Linked DNA regions of Homo sapiens: region 1 is linked to region 2. The links come from fine-mapping of genetic effects on gene expression. A gene starts in region 2. The other region holds a variant in brackets. All regions are shown on one strand. Distances are between the middles of the regions.

The links.
Region 1: its variant is fine-mapped to the expression of RNF20 in tibial nerve (GTEx, PIP 0.91).

The regions. Positions count from the first base shown.
Region 1 is chr9:101,558,325-101,570,326 of GRCh38, reverse strand. RNF20 (ring finger protein 20) reads right to left here. Exons shown (of 20, transcript NM_019592.7): 17 at 9,401-9,526; 18 at 9,097-9,237; 19 at 8,316-8,417; 20 at 6,983-8,081. The coding sequence ends at 7,905. It overlaps GRIN3A (glutamate ionotropic receptor NMDA type subunit 3A), which reads left to right. Exons shown (of 9, transcript NM_133445.3): 9 at 1-975. Among named protein-coding and RNA genes, the nearest start is that of RNF20, 30 kb to the right of the region's middle. The variant A/CACA (reference allele first, on the strand shown) is at 6,647.
Region 2 is chr9:101,527,350-101,539,351 of GRCh38, reverse strand. It overlaps RNF20 (ring finger protein 20), which reads right to left and starts at 5,499. Exons shown (of 20, transcript NM_019592.7): 1 at 5,438-5,499; 2 at 3,800-3,954. The coding sequence starts at 3,928. It also overlaps a transcript of PGAP4 not described here. RefSeq lists an enhancer at 5,628-5,757.

The sequences.
Region 1 (12,002 bases), 31 kb before region 2:
CACAAAGATCAGAAGCCTTCAGATAGAGGGTGGTATTCTGGTAAAGAAGAAAGAGATAAGGGACGCTACCTTGCTTTTCTGGCACAGGAAGCACATGATAAAGCATGCTCAGATGAGCTGGAACAGATATAGCTACCTGGTTCGTGTAAATAAGAATAATCAAGGCCCCAGAGTGTGTATGCTTCCAGGTGGAGGAGAAAGGGGAATCTCCCAAAATTTAAAAACAAATTGGAAGAATAACCAGGACAGCCAAGTGAAGCAGCCACAGGGACCCAAGCAGTCGAGGTCTTTAATGTGCCTGGAGATGACTCTCTGCTATTCATGAATCTTGCTATTGCACAAACCCTATCAAGAGCTGCTGCTTCCCTTCCAGCCAGAAAAGTGGTAAGCGGAGCAAGTGCCAAGCAGAACAGACCTTATCATCTGGGTAACAGACTTCTCAGTGTTGGTGCTGTGTCTGTTAGAGCCTTAGAGCAAGTTAAGCACTTCCTTGGTGTGGGTAAAGAATAAAGGGGAAAGAAACTACTTTAGAGCCTCTTTTTCTCCCAACTCATATTTTTGATAGGAAAAACAGAAAACCCATCCAGTTCTTCAGAAATTGCTTTCTAGGCATTAATACTACTTTACTATCTATACTGTTTAGTTATTCCTTTCTTTACCCACCTAAACTATCCATCTAATCCAGGATTCCCTCACTCTTTTTTTTTAGTTACTAATCATTTTATGAAAATAATGTATTTATAAGTATTTTCTTAAGGTTTGTGAAGAGTATTTGCATTGTGTCTTCATTTTAATGTGTTTGCAATCGCTCCGCTCCAGGAAGAACGGAAATGCTGTCTTGTGAGCATGAAGTGAACGGGCTGTTTTGCTCCAGCCACTTTTCTTGTACAACCACATGGATGGATTAGATGTCCTCAGGTCTTTTCCATCTTCAGTTTCTATGACTGTGGAATAAATGTTCAGATAGAAACTTCACTTTTGGATGTACTGCTGGCTTTGTCTTTGGGGATTCAAATGTTGACATGATACCAGTTCCTTCTTAATAGGAGACCCATTAATGCTATGATTTATGCTTATTTCCTTGCTATAGTCCAAAGAAGAAACACAAGATATGCTGAGAAATCTCAGAGCTCAGGCATCATGAAGTAGAACTGAAATGGCTTCATCTGAGATAGACATTCCAGGAAAAAGCACAAGTTCAGAGGTCTCTAAAATCCTGTACTGATCACCCTCATCAGTAATTCGACAAACATTTGCTAAACAGCTTCCATGTACGTGCCAAGTGCTGGAGACACAATAGTGAAGAAGATAGGTATGGTCCCTAACTTATGACCTTTTTTCTTTTTTTTTTTTTTTTTTTGAGACGGAGTCTTGCTCTGTCACCAGGATGGAGTGCAGTGGCATGATCTCGGCTCACTGCAACCTCTGCCTCCCAGGTTCAAGTGATTCTCCTGCCTCAGCCTCCCGCCCGAGTAACTGGGACTACAGGCGCCTGCCACCATGTCTGGCTAATTTTTTGTATTTTAGTAGAGATGGAGTTTCAACATGTTGGCCAGGATGGTATCGATCTCCTTACCTCGTGATCCACCCACCTCGGCCTCCCAAAGTGTGGGGATTACAGGCATGAGCCACCACGCCCACCCTCAATCTGACCTTTTTACAACCTATAAACAGGTAATACTGTAACAACTAACATATATTGGGTACTTATTATAAACCATGATCTCATTTAATCTTAACAACCCCACAAGATAGGCACTATAGATGTAGTCTTAAGTAGGTAAATGAGACCTCCAGTTTACAGATAAAAAAACAAGAGTCAGAGAAACTATGTAACTTGCCCAAGGTTGCAGAACTAGTAATAGTAACAGAGATTTGTACAACCATACAGGATTCCGGTCACTGCCTCACAATTTTCTATTCTTCCTTGAATCCCCTTTTAGTCTTTCTGCCTTACTGCTTCTTTCCCATGCCTCGGCCTGGCCCCTAGCTCCACAGAACAGAGAGAGAAGCGGATATTGTAACTGCACCTTCATTGGTCCATTTAACTCAACACTGTAATACCTATGTCTCATAAAAATAGCATTTCAGCATCTTTTCTTTCTGCTTTCTAGCCCAACCAAGAACTGATGCAAACACAGTTACAAATCAGCAGCAGCCCTGCAGTCCCAGACATATGGGCAGTTTCTGATAACCCAAGCAGTTTTAGCTGCAGGCAAATTTGCCTTCATGAATCTGCTAGCCTGTTGCCTTCTTCACACACATTCTTTCCGAATAGAAACAATCAAATCTCATGAAAATGTAAATCCACTATAACTTAATTCAACTACCTACTTACCTAAGGGTGTTTTTGCATTACTCAATCATTCATATTTTGGATGCCTATTTGTACCCAGGCATTGGGGCTAGTTGCTGGAAATAGACAGATAAAAACAGCAGATTCTGATCCCATAGAGCTCAGTGTAATGAAAGGACACAAACTGACATTTTATGGTGTGTACTCTAATAAGGAAATGCACAACGGGTACTATTGGAGTGAAGAAAACACTGTGTGTATGTGTGCATGTGGGTGCAGGTGTGTGAGGTGAAGAGACTCAGTGGAGGGTAACAGGCAACTAAACTAAAAGAAAGCATGTACAAAATTCCAGATTAGGGAAACCATGGCAATCAAGAAACTGGGACCTTCAAATCATTTAATATAATAGAAACACACAGCTTAAGGTGGATGACAAACTATATGAACTGGAAAGAGAAAAGCAGAGGCAAGATCACTTGTGCTAAATTGGATTTGTGTCCTGAAGACTACAGGAACCACTAAAGGATTTTAAGCTGAAGAGACAACTAGTAAAAGAACAGGATCCTCACCACCAGGTGGAGCTGGATGTCACTCACATGCATTTTAGTTGTAGGACAGTGAGCAGATAAAGTTAACTTTTTGAAGTTTTGGAATGAGTTGGCCATGACATCATTTACCAGGACAGGCAGACTAGAGACAGACAGACATGGATAAACGTGTGTCTTAGATTTCAGGGAGGATGTCAGTGTTTTGTTTTGTTTTGTTTTTTTCCCTAGAAATAAGAAAATGTAGGTGGAAACGAAAGTTGATCTATCAATTTCTTTATTTGCTCAACAATTATAAAAGTTAGCATTTGCTGAGCATTTACTAGGTGCCAGGCGCTGTGCTGAATGTCTCCTGTATGATGATTCATTTCATCCTCCATATAACCCTATGATGTAGTTATTATTTTATAGATGAAGAAACTGAAGCATAGAGACATGAAGTAACTTGCTAATAAGTAGCAGCACCATACGCAGGCAAGTCGGACTTCATGAGAAATATATTTAACACAATGCCTGGAATCACAATAAGCACTCAGCAAATGCATATGATTGGGAGAGCAGGAAGAAATCTAAGATCCCTTGATTCAATTCTACTCTACAACAAGGTGCTAAAGGAACTCAGTGAATTCAGAAACAAAATGTAGTTCTAATCCAGGGCCTGGCAAAGAGTCTAGTTAGATTAGAATGATCAAGGATAAGTATAGTAGGTATATGTAAGTCTTTAGAAGACTTCAAAATGACTCAGAAAGTATTTTCACTTATTGTCTACCTGATGACATGTACTCTATTAGTACAGGTCTCCGATTGGGATAAAAGAACAATGGAGTTCTCATAGTAGCATTTCAATCCTGTGGCTAACCTGAGTGGCCCTGGAACCTATTTCCTCACTTCTAAAATAAGGACATGGTCTGAGTTCCCTTTCAGCTCTAATATCCTCAGAGCATATTATTATTATATTAATGTGAACATAGCTTCCCTCAAAAAAAAAAAAGGTTAACTTACAATAAATGAAGCTTTTATGCAGGTTTCCGTAGCGTAGTGGTTATCATGTGTGCCTTGCAGTAAGTGAAGTCTCAGCTACATGAGACTCAGCAGTCTCATGAGCTGCCACTACAGAAGTGTTAGTTTTAGAATTCATAATAATTCCTTTTATTGCCACAAAATAAATTAAAACTGTAGTCATATATTTTTGGATAATACAAATTTGAAGGGTTACTTCGATATATGGGGAAAGATTGTTTCTACTTAGGGGGTGAAAAAAAGAAAGAGTAATAAGGTTTGAATCACACATTGGCCCAGTAAAGCAGACTTCGGAAGATCTGGCAGCAGAACCATGAAGCAGAATTAATTTAATCATGAAAAACTTTACTGACTACTATGTGCCTCTGCTAGATATTAGGGATTAGACTGTTAAGACATTGTCCTTTTCATGTCCTTTAGTAATTGTGAAGTAGGCTATAAGTAAGACCTTAATAGCTAACATTTGGAACAGACCAAACATGGGCAGGAATCCCAGAAGGTAAAGCTCATTCTTTCTGATAGGACCACTTTTAAGTATTTCCAAACTTTAAGATCTAGAAAATTTGTAAGTATTTCTATGTCATGGGTTTCCTATTGTGCAAACCCAATCCAACCTACACATAATCCACCATTTTTCTACTAATCTCAGTGTATCTGTCTTAACATCAGAAAAGCAGACTTCTGCAATAATGACTAATCAAAACTTTTCTGCAGATCCACTGGGACATGGGTTTATCTGGCAGTCCTCAGATAAATCTTCAAAGAACAATATGTAACGGCATTCCACATCCTAGCAAATGACAATGGGAATAAAGATGAGAGTAGCATATGCTTCCGGCAAGTGTAAGCATCACCATCCTAGTAGGTTTAGAAGACTGATGATTATTTATTGTCTAGAATCTTCACAAAATCAAATCACAGTCATCACTCTAGTGGCATGTACATTAAACTATGTGCATCAAATTCCGGCCCTTGAAGAACAAGGAAGCCTACGGATCTGGACAGAGAAAAAGGAAAAGGAATTGCAATGGAAATTCATGTAAGAAAACAATTGCAGAAACAGCTCAATACCTTTGAAAAAGATCCCTATAGTAAGTAAGAAGGTAAGATCCAAGCCATGTAGTTATGCATGCCTCAGAGCACACCTGACTTTGGTCAAAGTCACTAAGAAATTTCCAAGGTAACAATGAAAGAAAGAAAAAAGAGAGAGAGAGACCATCCCTACAAAATCTGAAATGGTTGTTGTTTGTTTTTGAGACAGGGTCTCACTGTGTCACCCAGGCTGGAGTCCATGGCATAATCACAGCTCACAGCAGCCTTAACCTCCGGTGCTCAAGCTATCCTCCCGCTGCAGTCTCCCAAGTAGCTGGGACTACAGGTGTGCACCACCACAGCCAGCTAATTTTCGAAATTTTTTGTAGAGACGGGGTCTCCCTATGTTGCCTGGGCTGGTCTCAAACTCCTGGGCTCAAGCAATCCTCCTGTCTCAGCCTCCCAAACTGCTGGGATTATAGGCGTGAGCCACTGCACCCAGCCTGAAGTGTTTTTAAGAAATGAGAAGCCTCTAGGACTTCTATAATAATCTTTGAAATTGGCATTTATAAGCATTACCTTAAAGAAATTACCCTTTAAAGTTCATATGGATCAAGGGCTGTGATTGCTAACTAGGATCCAAAAAAGCTATGAATAATGTACATACAATACAAATAAAATTTGGTATGCAGTTTGGGAGTATTCCTAAAGCGCATTCATTGACCTCTTCTGTAGTGAGAGAAGCCAACTGCCAAAAAATCACCATCATTTTTGGTTGTTATCTGAAAATGACTGTGAGAGCTCAACTTGTGTTGCCAGGACCTCAAGCCAGTTGGGATCAGGGGCTCCCTGCTCATCTCAACTAGAGGAACTTCCTCTAAATCCAACTTCCCATGGGGCTAGTGGTTTCCTCCACAACATTCCACAGGCCCTATGGTCCCCTGGTGCTGGGCAGCTGGCTTTCTCAGCCAATTGTCACAAACAGCCAACAGCCAAGCCCAAACCACCTGTTGACCAAGCAGTATATCTGCACCCAACCAACAAAGTTATGCTCAAGCTTACCCTATAAGAAGAGCAAGAAGCAAGGGGAAAGTGTCCTATTACTAAATGAAAACTCACTGTGTCCAGAAGCAGGAGCTAATCCTGTCATGATGGTTCTGTGGGGGTGGGGGTGTTTGCTGAGCAGGGGGATCAAGGGACCCATGACCTCTCTTGATGACCTAGTAAGATTCTTCAATTAGACTCATTGCTTAATTCATACCACATGACTTTGTGGAATTCAGTGCAAATCCTGCTGATTATAGCTGGTGACCACAGAAAGACACAGAATTTGCTCTTACCTGTCTTCTAGGACAGGTGGTGATCAAGAAGGATCCATTTTACACAACCCCTTGCCAGAGATTTATGAAACCTCTGGTTTGCTGGTTATTATAAAACATAATGCAGCTGGGCATGGTGGCTCACACCTGTAATCAAAACACTTTGGGAGGCCAAGGAAGGTGGATCACCTGAAGTCAGGAGTTTGAGACCAGCCTGGCCAACATGGTAAAACCCCATCTCTGCTAAAAATACAAAAATTAGCTGGACATGGTGGTGAGCACCTGTAATCCCAGCTATTCGGGAGGCTGAGGCAGGAGAATTGCTTGGACCCAGGAGGCGGAGGTGGCAGTAAGCCAAGATTGTGCCACTGCACTCCAGCCTGGGCGACAAGAGCAAAACTCCATCTCAAAAAAAAAAAAAAAAAACCCACCAC[A/CACA]TAATGCAAGAACTCTCACCCTAAAGCTAGAGGCAGCAATATGCTCCCCCAAAAAACAAATTATAGTCTCTTACCCCACCTAATGAACTATGAAAGATAACTGAGTAGTCAAATAAATTAATCTTTTAGGTATAATTTCTCCATAGAATAGACTCAATAAAAGAATTGGGAGAAAAGTGCTTCAATTAAGCAAAGATCTAAATACTCTAAACAAGGCCAACCTCTTAACCTAAGCTGATTATTTCCATGCAAGAAAATTTAATTCTATAACAGCAGATATAAAATCAACTTGTAATAATAAAGACAAAAGTTTCAAAGAAAAACCATAAACACAAATGCAAACTGAATCCTGCTTTAATTCAAGCTTGTGGAGAACAAAGTCCTACAGAAACATTCCACAGAATTTTCTGGAAAAGAGGGATCACAACAACCCTGTAAAAAGGAGACTGAGAGTAATTCATAGCTCACCAAGTTCTCTCCGTATCAAATTTCCAGAATACCCACAAGATTTCTTCACCAGCTCAGTCCTGACTCAACCTCTTCAATCTTTATTTCATTAGAAGACAAAGGGTCATATTATTTAAAATTATTCTAGTCTCAAGAAATTTAAAGACTTGAAGTAGTAGAGCATTCAAAACTTAAATAACTTTAACAAGAAAGCCAGCTGATCTTAACAAGTTACTCTGCTAGTAAATGGGAAATAGACTGAATCATCCTAGACATAATTTCATTAGGGCTGCAAACCACCCAGGGGAGAGTAGCACAATTATACCATTTTGTAATCCACATTCACAAGAAGTTTGCTACACAAATGAAGAAAACTTTGTGCCCATAGACAACTTATTTTTTAAAATATCACTCCCCAAAAGTAGCCATGTTTCCACTTTTGTTCCCTTTTCCACATCAAAAATACCAACTTGATTTCTTCAGGAGGAATGGACAATCCAAGTTTATACAGTGGGCTGGAAAAAGAAAACACTGAAAAGTCTAAAAGCACAAAATAAACAAAGCTGGGAGGGAAGACAGTAAGAGTTATTTGTTTCTAATTCATTCTGAAACCCAAGGCTTGTATTTACCAGTCCTTTCTGCTAAAGTCATCCAGCTACTGAAGAGGAGAGCCTGGAAGTAAAGTCTGGAGGAAAGGTAGTTGACTGATAAACTGTCCTACAGGTGACAGTCAAGGAGAGAAGAGGTAGAGGTTTGGTGGTTAATGAATAAGTTCCTGACTAGCCAGCTCCTCTTCTTCTCTTGACTTAGATCAACCAATGTAGATGCGATGAAAATCATTGGCACCAAAAGCAGCATTACACTTGGGACATTTGCGCTGGCGGGTGTCATAGCGTGTCTTCACACACTCAAAGCAGAAGACATGAAAACACTTAGTAAGAACAGCATCCTTTTTACGCATGTTACAGCACGGACAGGTCAAGCGTGCCTAAAAAGAAAAGATGTCAGAGTTTGAACAACCATGAAAGTTTATGATCCAAATGGCTCTCATATACTACACAACCAAGAAGAAAACCCACAAGGCACTAAAAAAAGAGCATCATTTCCCCCCAACCTCCAAAATAAACCATTCTCTGGTTACTATCATGCAAATTATTCTCCCAGTCTATTAGGCCACTTAAAGCTTTGACAAAAAACTAATCACTAAGGCATTTTTTCTAACCTTGTAATCCTTAATCTCTTCCATCAGAATCTCATCACACTTGGGTACATTGTCTGGTTTCTTTGTGGTCTCCAGCTTCCTGCGAAGTCTAGAGATGTCCTCCTGTGGCAGGATAGCATACCCATTAGACACACTTACCCAAATCTATCATTTTTGAGAAAAATAATAGACTTGAGTTTTCTGTTGTGAAAAGAGGGGACTTTCTATCCTTTTATGGTCAATTATCTTGTAGAAATGTAGAGAACTGCAAATGGCAGGATATTTTCTTTTGTTTCAGAAGAGGCAACCATAATTATATCCCCAAATTAGAATTGCATCTATTACCAATTCAGTCCTGTGAAAACACATCTAAGAGTTTAGAGGACAGTCTATTTTGTTTTATAGTAATTAGTTTTAAGCTGAAGGTAGAACGGTTTAAAATAATTCAGAGACTTACGGATAAAGACAGAAAGACATCATGAGAAACAGCTAGCATGACAAAAATAGAGACATTATACAAGAACTTGAAAATCCTCTACTGCTGCTATGCTGTTACTTCTTTAACAATTTACTAATTCATTAATTTAACAAATATTTATTTTGTGCCTACTAGGTGCAAGGCACCATAAAAGAGTCTGAGGATATGGCAGTGAAGAAAACAGACTTACTCTCTTCCCTCAACAAACTTCCTCAAGTCTAGTAGGAAATGACATACATTGGACTAATGATTCTTTCATGATATGGGTCACTTCCGACCTCAGAAAACACCTAAAAGGTGACAAGAAAAGACAACTGCTTTTACCTGGGCTCGTTTGAAATTGAACATGTCCTTTTCTTTGGTAACACTGTTCTCCACGATCTCATCCTGAAAATCATGTAGCTTCTTCTGAGCCAACTCCAGTTGTGCTTTGAGGTCATCTGCAAGCTGGGCTGCCTCCATTGCCTATGTAGGATGTACAAATAAGTGACACCATTGTATCACCTATTATTGCCAGTGAGGCAAAATGTTAGCCCAAGTTGAAGGAATAAAGCGAACTTACAATCTCAACAGTGTTATACTTATTTGTTCCACTGAGACTAACCATCATTAGATTAATCAATCATACCTTGCGTTTATTCATCTCTAAGGCTTGGGTCCTAAGACCCAGCTCTTTCTCCCCTGTGCCAATGTTGCTCTGTAACAGATGCTCCTTCTCTTCCAGTTTCCTTACTACCTGTAGCTGGGCATCAACCTTTGAACAGAAAATCAGATTTTAACACAAATGAAAAGATTAAAAAAAGAAAAAAAACTATTCTGTTAATCTATAAGCCCACAAAATACAGTATGTTAGAAATCTCAAACTATTACTGATTTTGCCCATGAACCCTTCAAAATACATCAAGACTATGATAACTGAAAGCTTTACTTTTAATATAAAATATTGTGGAAGATTCAGTAAGAGTCTGAAAAATGACTGAAAAGATTCTTTTCCAAATTGCCAAAAATAGAGAATGCATGCTAATGCTTAAAACCTGGCAATTCATACTATAACATATAAATTAGAACTCAAACAAAAGTCCAAGAGTATTTCCTTCAGAATGGCTAGACATTCTAAAAGAGTCTTTTTTGAAATTAATGCACAAAGTAGAATCAAACAATATTAAAGTGTAAAAAGTAAAATCACAAACACCCACCTCCTAACCTCACCCACAACTCATCCCAATATGTAGAGGTAACCATTCTAACAGTTTCTCACACTGCCTTCAAAAAGCATATCAAAAAGATAGTCCACCATGATCAAGTGGGTCTCACACCAGGGATACAGGGATGGTTTGACATCCACAAGTCAATAAATCTGATACACCATATAAACAGAATTTTTAAAAAATCACATGATCATCTCAATAGATGCAGAAAAAGCATTTGACAAAATCCAGCATCCTTTTATGATTAAAACTCTAGCAAAATCAGCATAGAAGGGACATACCTTAAGGTAATAAAAGCCATCTATGACAATCCCACAGCCAACATTATACTGAACAAGGAAAAGTTGAAAGCATTCCCCCTGAGAACTGGAACAAGACACAGATGCCACTCTCACCACTTCCATTCAACATGGCACTGGAAGTCCTAGCCAGAGCAATCAGACAAGAGAAAGAAATAAAAGGCATCCAAATTGGTAATGAGGAAGTCAAACTGTCACTGTTTGCTGATTACATTATCATATACCTAGAAAACCCTAAAGACTCATCCAGAAAGGTGCTAGAACTGGTAAATGAATTCAGCAAAGCTTCACTATACAAAATTAATGTACACAAATCAGAGCTCTGCTATACACCAACAGCAACCAAACTGAGAATCATATCAAGAACTCAAACCCTTTGACAACAGCTGCAAAAAAAATAAAATAAAATACTTAGGAATATACTTAACCAAGAACGTGAAAGACCTCGACAAGAAAAATTACAAAACACTGCTGAAAGAAATCACAGATGACACAAACAAATGGAAACACATCCCATGCTCGTGGATGGGTAGAATCAATATTGTGAAAATGACCATACTGCCAAAAGCAATCTACAAATGAAATGCAATTCCCATCAAAATACCAACATCATTCTTCACGGAACTAGAACAAACAATCCTAAAACGCATATGGAACCAAAAAAGAGCATACATAGCCAAAGCAAGACTAAGCAAAATGAACAAATCTGGAGGCATCACATTACCTGACTTCAACCTATACTATAAAGCCATAGTCACAAAAACAGCATGGTACTGGTATAAAAATAGGCATGTAAACCAATGTAACAGAATAGAGAACCCAGAAATAAAGCCAAATACGTAGTCAACTGATCTTTGACAAACCAAACAAAAACATAAAGTGGGAAGGGACACCCTATTCAACAAATGGTGGTAGGATAATTGGCAAGCCACATGTAGAAGAATGGAACTAGATCCTCATCTCTCACCCTATACAAAAATCAACTCAAGATGGATCAAAGACTTAAATCTAAGACCTGAAACCATAAAAATTCTAGAAAGCAATATTGGAAAAATCCTTCTAGACAATGGCTTAGGCAAAGACTTCATGACCAAGAACCCAAAAGCAAATGCAACAAAAGAAATGATAAATAGATGAAACTTAATTAAACGAAAAAGCTTCTGCACAGCAAAAGAAATAATCATCAGGGTAAACAGACAACCCATAGAGTGGGAGAAAAAAATCTATACATCCAACAAAGGACTAATATCCAGAATCTACAAGGAACTCAAACAAATCAGCAAGAACAAAACAAACAATCCCACCAAAAAGTGGGCTAAGGACATGAATATACAATTCTCAAAAGAATATATACAAATGGCCAACGAACATAAGAAAAATGTTCAACATCATTAATTATCAGGGAAATGTAAATCAAAACCTCAATGCAACACCACCTCACTTTGCAGGAATGGCCATAATCAAAAAATCAAAAAATAATAGGTGTTGGCATGGATGTGATGAAAAGGGAACACTTTTACACTGTTGGTGGGAATGTAAACTAGTACAATCACTATGGAAAACAGTATGGAGAGTCCTTAATGAACTAAAAGTAGACCTACCACTTGATTCCGCAATCCCACTTCCGGGTATCTACCCAGAGGAAAAGTCACGCCATGGAATACTACTCAGCCATAAAAAGGAACAAAATAATGGCATTCACAGCAATCCGGATGGAATTGGA
Region 2 (12,002 bases):
ATCCAGTTATCTGGCTATTCCATTCCTGTACCCAGTATGCTGAGACTTCTAGAGAAGTTCATCAAACCACCGAAACCGGTGCCTTTACAAAATGAATTCTTAGCCTAAACAGATTTTATAATTTGTCTAGAAATATTTCTTTATCAAGTGAGCTATTTCCCATTCTCCAGCAAGGCAACATCAACCTCTACCAAACCCTGCCCCCTTTTACATCATACAAAACAGATGGCTTTACTTCCTATTTTAATGAGAAAATAGAAGCCATCAGATGGAAAACAATTCCCCATCTCTTTGACCCATTAACACAATTATGCACACATTCTTAAAACCTCAGCTTGTGCTCAGGATCCTGTTCTCTTCTGTCTCTACAAAACCCTCACTCCATTAGTAATTTCACATCCCTCTCAATATTTTTCTCTCTCCAGCTCCTTCCCTAGGACAAACCAGGGAGGGGTTGGTGGGAGGTGGGATTGGAGGATATAACAAGCAAAGAACCAGCATGTGGAAAAATAGTCTTACTTTTCTGAGGAATTAATGAAATCATTATTTTAAAGTGACAATTGTTTATTACACCACCAATTTTTGTTTCATTTTTCTCTTTTCCACTTTAATTAAAACATTCCTAATATGCCAAAGTAGTCAACAGTTTTCCCACTGTACCAGTTTATTAACACTATTAATAAACTATATCCTCAAACTCTTCTCTGAACATTGCCTTTCCCTTCTTGCTCTAACTGAAACTTGGATGAGAAACTGTTTCCCTGCAGGCTTCTCTAGTGGTGGCTGTTTCTCTTCCACACCCCTTGAAGCCAGAGAGGGATGAATATCCTCCTTATTTTCCATTGCCACTTCCAGGCCATTACCCCACCTTCCTCCCTAAAACCTCCTACCTCTGCAGCTCATGCCATTAGCCTATACCACCTGCCGCCATGCTCTGTTGAATTCATCTGTAAATGCCCACGTCGTTTCCTCACATTTCACAAAGACTTAGCACCTACCTTATTATCACTCTCCAATACTTTTCCTGTCATCATTCTTAATGATTTCAATACCCATACAGATAACCTTTCCTATACTTGAATCATCAAGTCACTGACCTCCTCTTCACCAATGATCTTGTCTTCTACCTCCTTCAGCCACCAACTCCCACATTTAGTCTTACTTGTACCTACATGTCCTCTATAAGCTCAATTTCAAACACCTCATTCTTCACAACTACCACTATTTTTCCAGCTCACTCTCTCCAGTTTCCTTACTCCAAAAATTCTTTAACCTCTCCAGGATCTACAATCCATTGGTCCTATACCTTTCACTTCTCTCACCTCCTTCTTTACTGAACTTAAATTCCATGATCAGTCATTATATAGTCATCTACTTTACAGCGATACTCCTTTATAAAGCATTGTCTCTACTCTCTTTTTCCTAATTCCTCTCCCCTCATATTCTCTTAAGCTCACTGAAAACAGGGTGCCATCCCCACTATTTCACCAACAAAGGTGTTTTGGTATCTCCAGTGAACTATTATTAAATATAACACCTCAGTCCTCCCTTTATTCCCCTTGTTCCAACTGAAACCTGAATGAGAACACATCAGCAGCACCTAATCAGCTCCTTCTTGAAATACTTTCTTCATTGAGCTTCTGGGAACCCATTCTCTCTTCCTATCCTCTTACCTCATTGGTCCCTCTTTGTTTGTATCTTTGATTAGTCCTTTCTCATTCCTTGACATGAAAATATTGTAGTGCCCCAGCAGACCTCTTTATGCTTATTCATTAAAGGAGTCTGTAGTCTCATAGATGTAAACACAACTTACAAAATGACGATTCCCAAATATACAGCTTTAGCCCAGACCTCTCTCTAGTATCCAGCTTATTAACTACCTATCCATTCAGAGGTCAAATAAGTATCTCAAACTTATATGTCCCAAACCAAACCAAACTCAATTCATCCTCCATGACTCCCAAAAATCTGCTCCTCTCATACACTTCTCTAGCTCAGTAAGTAAAAATTCCATTACTTTCAAAATCCTGGGATGATCCTCCCTCCTATCTTTCATGTGAGTTATCCAATCCATCAGCAGATCTTATCAATGCTACCTCCACAGTGGTCCAAGCCACCATGATTTCTCATTAAGATTACTGCAAAGGCCTCCTATAGCAAAAACTCTGTGCTAAGTCCTGTCAGCCTGCCAGATTTCAGCACAGCTGTGGTGGACAGCTCCATTTACACTGCCATTGTTCCCACTTCAAGCACACTTTGGAGACTCAGTTTTTCTGTCCCGCAATCACAGCTGGCTCCTAACAGCAATCTCAAAATGCACAGGAGGGACTGCTTTCAATGGCAACCTTCAACCAATTGGAGCGGGGATCAGTGGATACATGCCTCAGATCCCCACCTTTGGAGAGATGCAGTTATAGCGAAAGAGAGTAAGAAGAAGAAAAGAAAAAAGTCTGCTAGCTGGACTCTTGTTTATAATCCTTGCTTTTCTATAGTCTCCAAACACAAGTCAGAGCATGTTAGTCTCCTACTTAAGACTATCCACTAACTCCTCATTGCCTCTGGATAAAGTCCACACTGGGGTGTGTGCTATGTGCTTCCCATAAGTATGTGCTTATCCCTGTCAACAGCACATACCCCACTCTAAACAGTCTATTCCCTTGTCAGTGCTACCCTACAAACTAAAGTCTAGGGGCTGTCTTCAGTGTAAAGGATAGTGTCTGGCAAATAACAAATACTCAACAAATATTTATATATTGAGTGAATAAATGCCTTTGGAATGCATGATGCAAGGCAGTGCTAAAACAAAAATCACTTCCTGCCAGCAATATTAAGTACCAGAACCTCAGGCAGCCTCAGAAATGACACTTCATCAACAACTCACTATGAATGTTCCTATTATTCTGACTCAAAAAAAAAAATCAGCCTCTCTAAAATAAACCTCAGCCTCAAAATCAAATAAGCAATAGATGTGGTTTTGCAAGCCATACAAATGTAAAGCATTTTACAAAATGTAAAACATTTTAATATCACATCCCCATGTCTGATTTTCAAAAAAGCAAAATCTTGACGTAGATCAAAACCTGTAAACTTCTGATGTCTAACAGATATATAACATTACTATGAGATTTTGGTATATAATACTCATTTTGTCAGCTCCATAAGAGCAAGGATAATATCTATGTTATGCACCATTATATTATCTAGCCCAATATTAGCTATGAATGCCTCCCATTTATTGACTATTTACTATATTAAATGCAAAGTGTTAGCCCTTAACAGGGACTCTTATTTTATATGCATAAAAATCTAATGTAGCAGGTACTCTAATTACATTTTACAGACAAGAAAACAGGCAAAGGAAGGATAACACAAGGTCAGCCAGCTAGGAAGTGGTACAGCTCAGAGTCAACTCCAGGCAATCTGGTCTCAGACTCTCACTCTTCACCATACTCTCAATGATTGCTAAACTGTCTCTTAGAATCTGGTACTGACTTTTTCAGTGAATGAAAAATAAATGTGTATCTTCCCACTGCTAAATACCTATAGTTAATGTTGTATCAGGCACCACCTTCCCAGATTCTCGAAAGAATATAAGTACACCTTGAAAACAAAGAACAACTATCAATCTACCTCTCCTCTAGAACTGACTACCACATCATTTTACCTACTTTCAGCCTGTTTTATTTCCCTCTTCTTTTCAAATAGCTTCCCCATACTCCAGAAAGCTTCCATGAATTTTTAGTTTCAAGTTGCAACTGACAGAAGACAAGCACACTTTCATGGCACTGTTTCCTCATACCGTTGAAGAGACACCTCCTAGCTTAATTGTTTCCACTGTGGTCCCTGAATCTTCAACAGCTGCCTTCTTCTCAGGAGGCATGGAGGTGCCAGGTTCTCCAGCTGCTCTTTTATTTCCAATTCCTGACATTTTGGCAGAAGAAGACAGTCGTTTTCCTGATAGAAAAAAAGGCAGAAACTGACATAATATATGTAAGCAAAGCAACAATAGAGTAAAACAATAGAGTAAAAACTAGCAACTTTTCTGGCCAACCCTTTAACCTGGATCCATTAATTCCACAACCATCTCCATATTTCTCTTTGAGGAAAAAAAAAAAAAATTAAATTGTAGAGTAAAAGTCAAGGCGGGCCGGGCGCGGTGGCTCATGTCTGTAATCCCAGCACTTTGGGAGGCCGAGGCGGGCGGATCAAGAGGTCAGAAGATCGAGACCATCCTGCCTAACACGGTGAAACCCCGTCTCTACTAAAAATACAAAAAATTAGCCAGGCGTGGTGGCGGGCGCCGGTAGTCCCAGCTACTCGGGAGGCTAAGGCAGGAGAATCACTTGAACCCGGGAGGCGGAGCTTGCAGTGAGCCGAGATCGCACCACAGCACTCCAGCCTGGGCAACAGAGCGGGACTCCGTCTCAAAAAAAAAAAAAAAAGAAAGTCAAGGCTAAATTTACATGACTATAAATTTCTAAATAGGATGGTGATAAGAATGGTGATAAGAAATGAGACAATGGGCAAAGGGTGAAGAGACCAAAAATAAAGTTCTGGAATCTCTCTTCCTGTAATGCCAAAATCAGAAAAGGGCAGTTTGATTATGCCAGAAGTTAATACTACAGTGTTGAAAGAATCACAGAGCTGAAAGAGATCTGTGAAATGCCTACTAAAGTCATTAGTACTAGACAAGTCAGTTATCATCTCTAAGCCTCAGTTTCCTAACCCAGGAATAAATAACCACAGTATATACTTCCTATGCTTATTATAAAATAAAATGGATGATATAATTATAGAAAGAATTTGGCACAAAGCCGAACACAAAGTAAGCACTCAGAAACCCCAGCTCTTCTTTAACGTTTGCAGTGTTTTCCCTATTTCCAAACGCTCTCTCCACTGTTTTATGCAACCCTACGTTAGTTAGACCTGGGTGCGAATTTCAGTTCTGCCTGTTAGAGGCCGTGTTGCTTTGAAACAGTGAATTCGCCAAGAGCTTCAGTTTCCTCAACTGCACAATATTAACGAATATATTTTTCGTCTGCCCTGCCTACCTCCCAGGGTGCTCAAAGGAGGCGGAATGGATGCTAAAGCACTTTGGCTACTTCAGGAAACAACGCAGCCATCACCGAGACTAACAAGACTACTCTGCTTCCAATTCAAGCTCCAGGAGAGGACTATCGCTGGCAACAACCTCAGTAGGACCTCGCCTGGAGAGAGAAGACACAGAAGCAGAACAAGGCTGCAATCCAACTCGCTAAAAGCCAAAGACCTCAGCCTCAGCGTGGATAATTGCAGGCCCAGGAGACTGACGGCCCCAAAACTGGAGAGGGTGGAGACTCCTGAGGCCTGGCACAGTCCTGTTGGGCCCTAAGCGTGATCTAACCTAAGTTCTTTGAACTGGCGCCGCGCGGGAACAGAACTCGCAGCAGTTACTCACCAAGGCCCGTGCAGAGATTCCAGCTCTCACCCCTGACCCGCGGCGGAGACAAGGCAGAACTTCCGGGAGGCGGGGCCACGGAGAGGAAAAAGGGAAAGAAAAAAGGAAGTGGCTTCAACCCAGCCCATAGGACTATGAGACCCCGCCGGGCGGAAGTGACGTACGGAGAGGGCACGAGAAGCTTGAGCAAGCGCCGCCTCCCTAGCAACGCTGGGCAAGCGCGGGACCCTCTCCTGGCTACGACCTCTAAGAGTACTCGGGCCTCGCTGATGCCTGACGGAGAGCCCTTGGCTTTTGTTGACTTGTTGACCTTTGCTACTGCGATCTGGTCTTTCTGCGGGGATAAAGTTCCTCATTCTGTTGCTTGTCATTGGGGTTGCCATCACTCGTTCAGACGGCCGATTGGCTGACGGTCCCGTCAATCTCCGGGGACATGACTAGCCTCAGACACCTCAGAAAATTGTTCGTTGGTACCCCTACGTGCTGAAATGAAGAGTTCTGGAGAGAATCTGAGGGATTTGAGGAATTTCAGATGTTGGGGATTTTTTCCCCCGCACAGGGAGCGGTATTCTGCCCTGTCTACACATTAGAATCACTTGGCCTGGACAAAAGCTTTTTTAAAAAAGCGTTCCCCTCATCTCCTCCCCCCAAACCCCGCATTTCCATCCACTAGATTCTAATGCGTAAGCAGGAGTGACAACTACTGCCCTTGTGCTTTTTTGGGAACAAGAAATTGTCCAGGGAAAAGATAAACGCCAATCAGTCTCTGATCTCAGTACTAGTCTATTTTAAGCTAATTAAGCATTGATTTTTTTTTTTAAGTTTATGACAAACTGCTATTTTCCATTCAGTTAAACTAAATGCGTTTTAATGATAGGACGGTAATTAATCTAACCTATTAATGAAAAGCTGTATGTCTCGCAGAACTATGATAAACTACCTAATGACGTCAGCTAAGGGTCTAGAAATGGAAGAATGATCGCTATATCTTTTTTAAAAAATAGAATTTAGGCATCTTGGGAAAAAAAGAAGCTAATCTACACTGGATTTCTGTTAGTGTGAAGACTTTTGTCCCTGTACCTGCTAGGGCTTACCTGTAAATGAAGTAAGATGGTCAACACCAGGGAAACAAGTGTTCCTGGTGCCTGGCAGTGGAACACCTTGACTATCTTGGAAAGAATTAACTGGCCCCAAGTGGACTTCACATTTCATTCCGTGAAGTGGGAGCCTGAGAACATGTGAGTGGGGACACACCTGCCGAAAAGCATTGTATGAGACAATGACACTCATTCTCTCATCTTCTTTGGTTCCTCTACTCTTAGCAAGCCTTTCATTCATAGAACTACTGAATGGCAAGTAATGGTTTTTCTAGCCCAGAAAACTAGAGGTTCACAGACTGCATTTAGCCAACAGTTATGCTTTGTTTATTTTAGACAGTATTGGCTGTCCTGCGTGGTTAAAAACAAGAACAAAAATGAACTTAGTTGCCAACATTTAAAATATGGCTATTTTACATAAAAATCCAAATTATCAGTTTCTCTAAAAAATGTTGATGATCTTGCAACAGAAGGGTTATATTTTTGCATGGTCACATTGCTTAGAGCAAAGTAGTGGCTTCTTCTTTTTTTTTTTTTTTCTTTTTTTCGAGACAGAGTCTTACTCTGTCACCCAGGCTGGAGTGCAGTGGCACAATCTCGGCTCACTGCAAACTCCACCTCACAGGTTCAAGCAATTCCCATGCCTCAGCCTCCCAAGTGGGTGGGATCACAGGCACACGCCACCACACCTGGCTAATTTTTGTATTTTTAGTAGAGATGGGGTTTCGCCATGTTGGCTAGGCCGGTCTCAAACTCCTGACCTCGGACGATCCATCCACCTCAGCCTCCCAAAGTGCTGAGATTACAGGCCTGAGCCACAGCTACTGGCAATGAGCCACCACGCTTGGCGTGGCTCTCTTTTATTAATAGATCATGTTATTCTTGTTTACCATAATCCCCACTAATCTTTACTGGTTCCTTAGCACTAGTATAGTTTAATTTGAGTATCATCACTTGTGTGTTACATTGTGATAAATCAATTGCTGGTACTACGTAAGTGTCTGGTGGACATTATTGGTGATCTACCCAACAGCTATTCCCCTTCCCTCACCTTAGCAGAACCAGGATTTTTTTCATGTATCCATATAGCACTTTGATTCCATTAAGTCTTAGGGAAAACTGATTTCACCCCAATCTCCAAGGATTGTCTTAAATACTAAGTTCCATTTCCCAAGCCAAAGTCCTAGTCAGCAATTGACACTTTAATCAGGGTGAATTTCTTTGAATACTAGAATTGAAGCAGATTTTTATCTTCCAGATTTTCTGTGTGAGGCTGAAACTGTTGGAGGCTTCCTGAGATCATTCTTGAGAATGGAGCGACCACATAGGGGTGAGCAGAACCAAGAGAATCTCAGGGAAATGGAGCCAATCAACTGAGTTAGGTCACCCCTAACTTCAACCCACACTTGAGTGTTAGAGAAGATTCTACAAAGAGAGCAGACTTTTCTAGTACCTTTCAATTCTCACCATGTAGGTAACCATATTCTCTAGCAACTGGGATATATGTCTTTCTCAAAAGTTCCAGTTATCTAACACCTTCACAGGTGTCACAGCTCTCCAGAAAATAAAATCAACTCTGTGTGTGTGTGTGTGTGTGTGTGTGTGTGTGTGTGTGTGTGTGTAGAAAGAGATTTGAGAAAGAGAGAGAGGGACATTATAAGGAATTGGTTCACAGGATTGTGGTGGCTGGATAAACCAAAATCTACAAGGCAGGTTTGCAACCTGGAGCCCCAGGAAAGATTTGCAGTTTAAGTCTAAAGGCAGTCTGCTGGCAGAATTCATTCTTGCTCAGGGGAGGTTAGTCTTTGTTCTATTAAGGCTCTCAACTGATTGGATGAGGCCTACCTACATTTTGGAGGGTAATCTGCTTTAGTCTACCAATTTAAATATTAATCTCATCCAAAAAAACAAACAAACAAACAAACAAACAAAAACACCTTCACAGAATCATCCAGAATAATGTTTCACCAACTATTTGGGCACAGTGGCCCAGCGAAATTGACACATAAAATTAACCATCATAGTAGGTAACCATATTCTGCAGCTACTGGTGAGATCTGTCTTTTCTGAGCACCTCAGTCAGCCATCTGACATCTTCAAAGTAGCCTGTCTCACTCTAGCGAATTGGGAAAATAGAATAGATGAAGAGGAGGATGGCAGAGATCTCTCTCATTGAATGCATTCCCCATTCATTTCTGACCAGCCACCTTCTGTTCACCATCTTAATCAAGAGAAAAAGGAATATCCCTGGAAAAATAAGTTTTTCCCTCACTTATAAATGGGAAAACAGCATTAGCAATGATAAAAAGAATACTTAATATTTTATTTCACTTTTAAAGTCTCATTGCTTGTATCAAAAACATAATTTAAGCAAATAGTAATCTTTTTTAAAAGGAGAAAACAGACTCAGATTTTAAGTGATTTTTTTTTTCAAATGATGACTTAATGAGTATTTGTTGAAGGACCCAAGTCATTCGACCTCCAGCCGGTCTTCATTAACTACCCAATTCTGCCACAAGGTGGCATAAGGCGACACGCCTCTTTACCCAGTTCCCTTTCTAAAGCTTTGGTTGCACAGTACTGCGCATCAGTCATGTCCTGTCTTCACCCTAACTCTTAGAAACTTGGACAACTACTGAGGGTAGGCTTAATGCTCTCAAAATGGACAAAATTAAGATATTTTGGATTTTTGTTTATTGTTTTTTTCTACACTGCTTTACAAATGTTTTGTTCTAAGATTGTTATATCTCCAGGCATTCCAATATTCCATGAAATCTGGATTGGATTGTATGCCAGACATAATTCAGGAACTCCCTTATTTTAAACAAGTTGTATTTTACTTAGCATGGTATCACTCGTTAAACAGAAACATTTAGATACCATAGCCCTTGCTCTAGACTTGCTGAATCAGAATTTCCGGGGGAAAGCTCTCTGAAAATGCAAGTTCTTACTTTTGTAATTATGCTTCCTATCTGGGCACATTTAAGGAACACTGCTCTAGGTAATGATGTCCAGGTCCACCTGGGAGTGTCCTACAAAAACGAGCCCCCTCCTCTTGTCCTCACCTTTCCCTTCTCCTACCATTCACCCTCGCCACACCTTTCTCCTTCATTTCCATACCCCTGCCTCCTTCTCCCCAGATCACCTGGCCCACTATACTACATCATACTCAGCCCTCTTACTTTGTAATTTCTGGGGACCAGGGAGGTGGCTTACTCAGGGGAGCTAGAGCCAGGTCTGCCTTTTTTAAAGAGTGAGGACAAGGTGTCCTAACAGTCTATGGAAACGTGAGAGCTAATTGGTAGTCACAAATTGTCAGAGGAGCCCCATTTAGTTTAATGCTCTCTTAAAAAGCTGAGAGAAGGCCGGGCGCGGTGGCTTATGCCTGTAATCCCAGCACTTTGGGAGGCCAAGGCGGGCGGATCACCTGATGTCAGGAGTTCAAGACCAGCCTGGCCAACATGGTGAAACCCTGTCCCTACTAAAAATACAAAATTAGCTGGGCATGGTGGTGGTCGCCTGTAATTCCAGCTACTCGGGAGGCTGAGGCAGGAGAATCACTTGAACCCAGGAGGCAAAGGTTGCAGTGAGCCGAGATCACACCATTGCACTCCAGCCTGGGCAAAAAGAGTGAAACTCCATTTCAAGAAAAAAAAAAAAAAAAGCCGAGAGACACCATGCAGCTATAAAAAAAGAATGACATCATGTCATTTGCAGGGACATGGATGCAGCTGAAGGCCATTATCCTTAGCAAACTAACACAGGAACAGACAACCGCACGTACTCACTTATAAGTAGGAGCTAAGTGATGAGAACACATGGACACAGAGAGAGAGAGAGAGGAGCAACACAAACCAGGGCCTAGTGAAGGGTGGGAGGAGGGAGAGGATCAGGAAAAACAACTAACGAGAACTAGGCTTAATATCTGGATGATCAAATAATCTGTACAACAAACCCCCATGACAAAATTACCTATGTAACAAACTGCACATGTGCCTCTGAACTTAAAAAAAAAAAAAAAAACTAAGAAGTGTCTATGTTACAATCATACAATTGGTCTTTTATGTCCCTATGCCCAGCCATGTGACAGTCTATGTTTGGGTTTCTAACATTTTTATCATTTGTATTTCTATGATGCTTTTGTGTTTGGAAAGCAGAAGCCAGGTTGTCTTTGTGAATTTTCACTGGGTAGGTCTACTCTTCCATATTACTGTTACTGTGCAACTAGAAACCCACCTGGCCTTGGAGGAGAAAGAACAGCATCACTGAAATGCTTGCATCAGGCGTTGGGGATGGGGGTACAGCATGTAATTACAAAGGTAAGATTTGGAATTTCCATTTCCAGAAGCATGGCATGACCATCATTCAGAAAGCAAGCTGAGGACTAAAACTGGATTTCAGCTGAGGGCATTTGTCAAACTAGGTAAAGGAGAATTTAGGTTTTCATGGCCTTGGTAGGCAAGCAGAACAGGAGACAAAGCCCAGGGACTATTATGATTGGGTGCATATTAGAGACCCCTCCCCATACAAGCAAGGTGGAAACAACTACTTCCAACTGAAAGAAAATTGCCTGTCTCAAACTTTGGTATAAATATTTTTGCTGACTGGTACAGAATTCTAGAAGGCACTTAAAAAGAATTTCCAGAAATGTGGAAAAATAAAAGAAGGGCACAAAGAGGCCATGGGCAGTGCCTATGATCTCATTTTTACTTTTAAAACTTAAAAAATGCAATAAATCTTTTCCTGACCCTGGGTAATTGTGCTTATTTAGTACAAATCTGAGTACAGATTTTGGGGCAACAGTACCTAATTAGGCACACCCAGGCACACCCTAACTTACCCTTGGAGCTTACAGGAATTCCAAGAAAATCCACATGGGTAGAGATTGAGCGTCTTTCCCAATGGGCAGTCAAGATGATGAGATGGATCACTAAATTCTAAAGAATCCATGTCATGCTGTATACACACAGCAAGGAGGGCCTTAATATTAGCAAAACAACATCAAGTGTCTCACATTAAATAAATGTTGTTAACTTTAAGCTTATTTGGCTCTGTAGCCTTGTTTATATTTAATTTGTAAGTATATTTTTGTTTGTAAGCTGTATAAGCATAAGGCATGCATACCAAGTTTATATTTATACATTTTAACATTACAATTAAAATATTTTAAGTAAACATTAAGTGGCCCATGAGAAAATTGTTTTCCTTTGAAAGAGGGGTCCATATATTACTTAAGTTTGTAAAACATTTATTACTTAATTGTGTAGCTACTGTCTTGTGTGGCCATAATTATGTCTAGTCTTTTCATTTTCTTTTAAATTATTCTAGGATCAATAAGGGAGAATTGATATAAATATAACTGATATAGTATATCAGTTTAAACATGTATTGACTCCAACAACGACATGTATTAAGATATGAATTTCTGGTGCCCAAAGGCATATGGCCAAATTCAGTTAAAAGGAGGT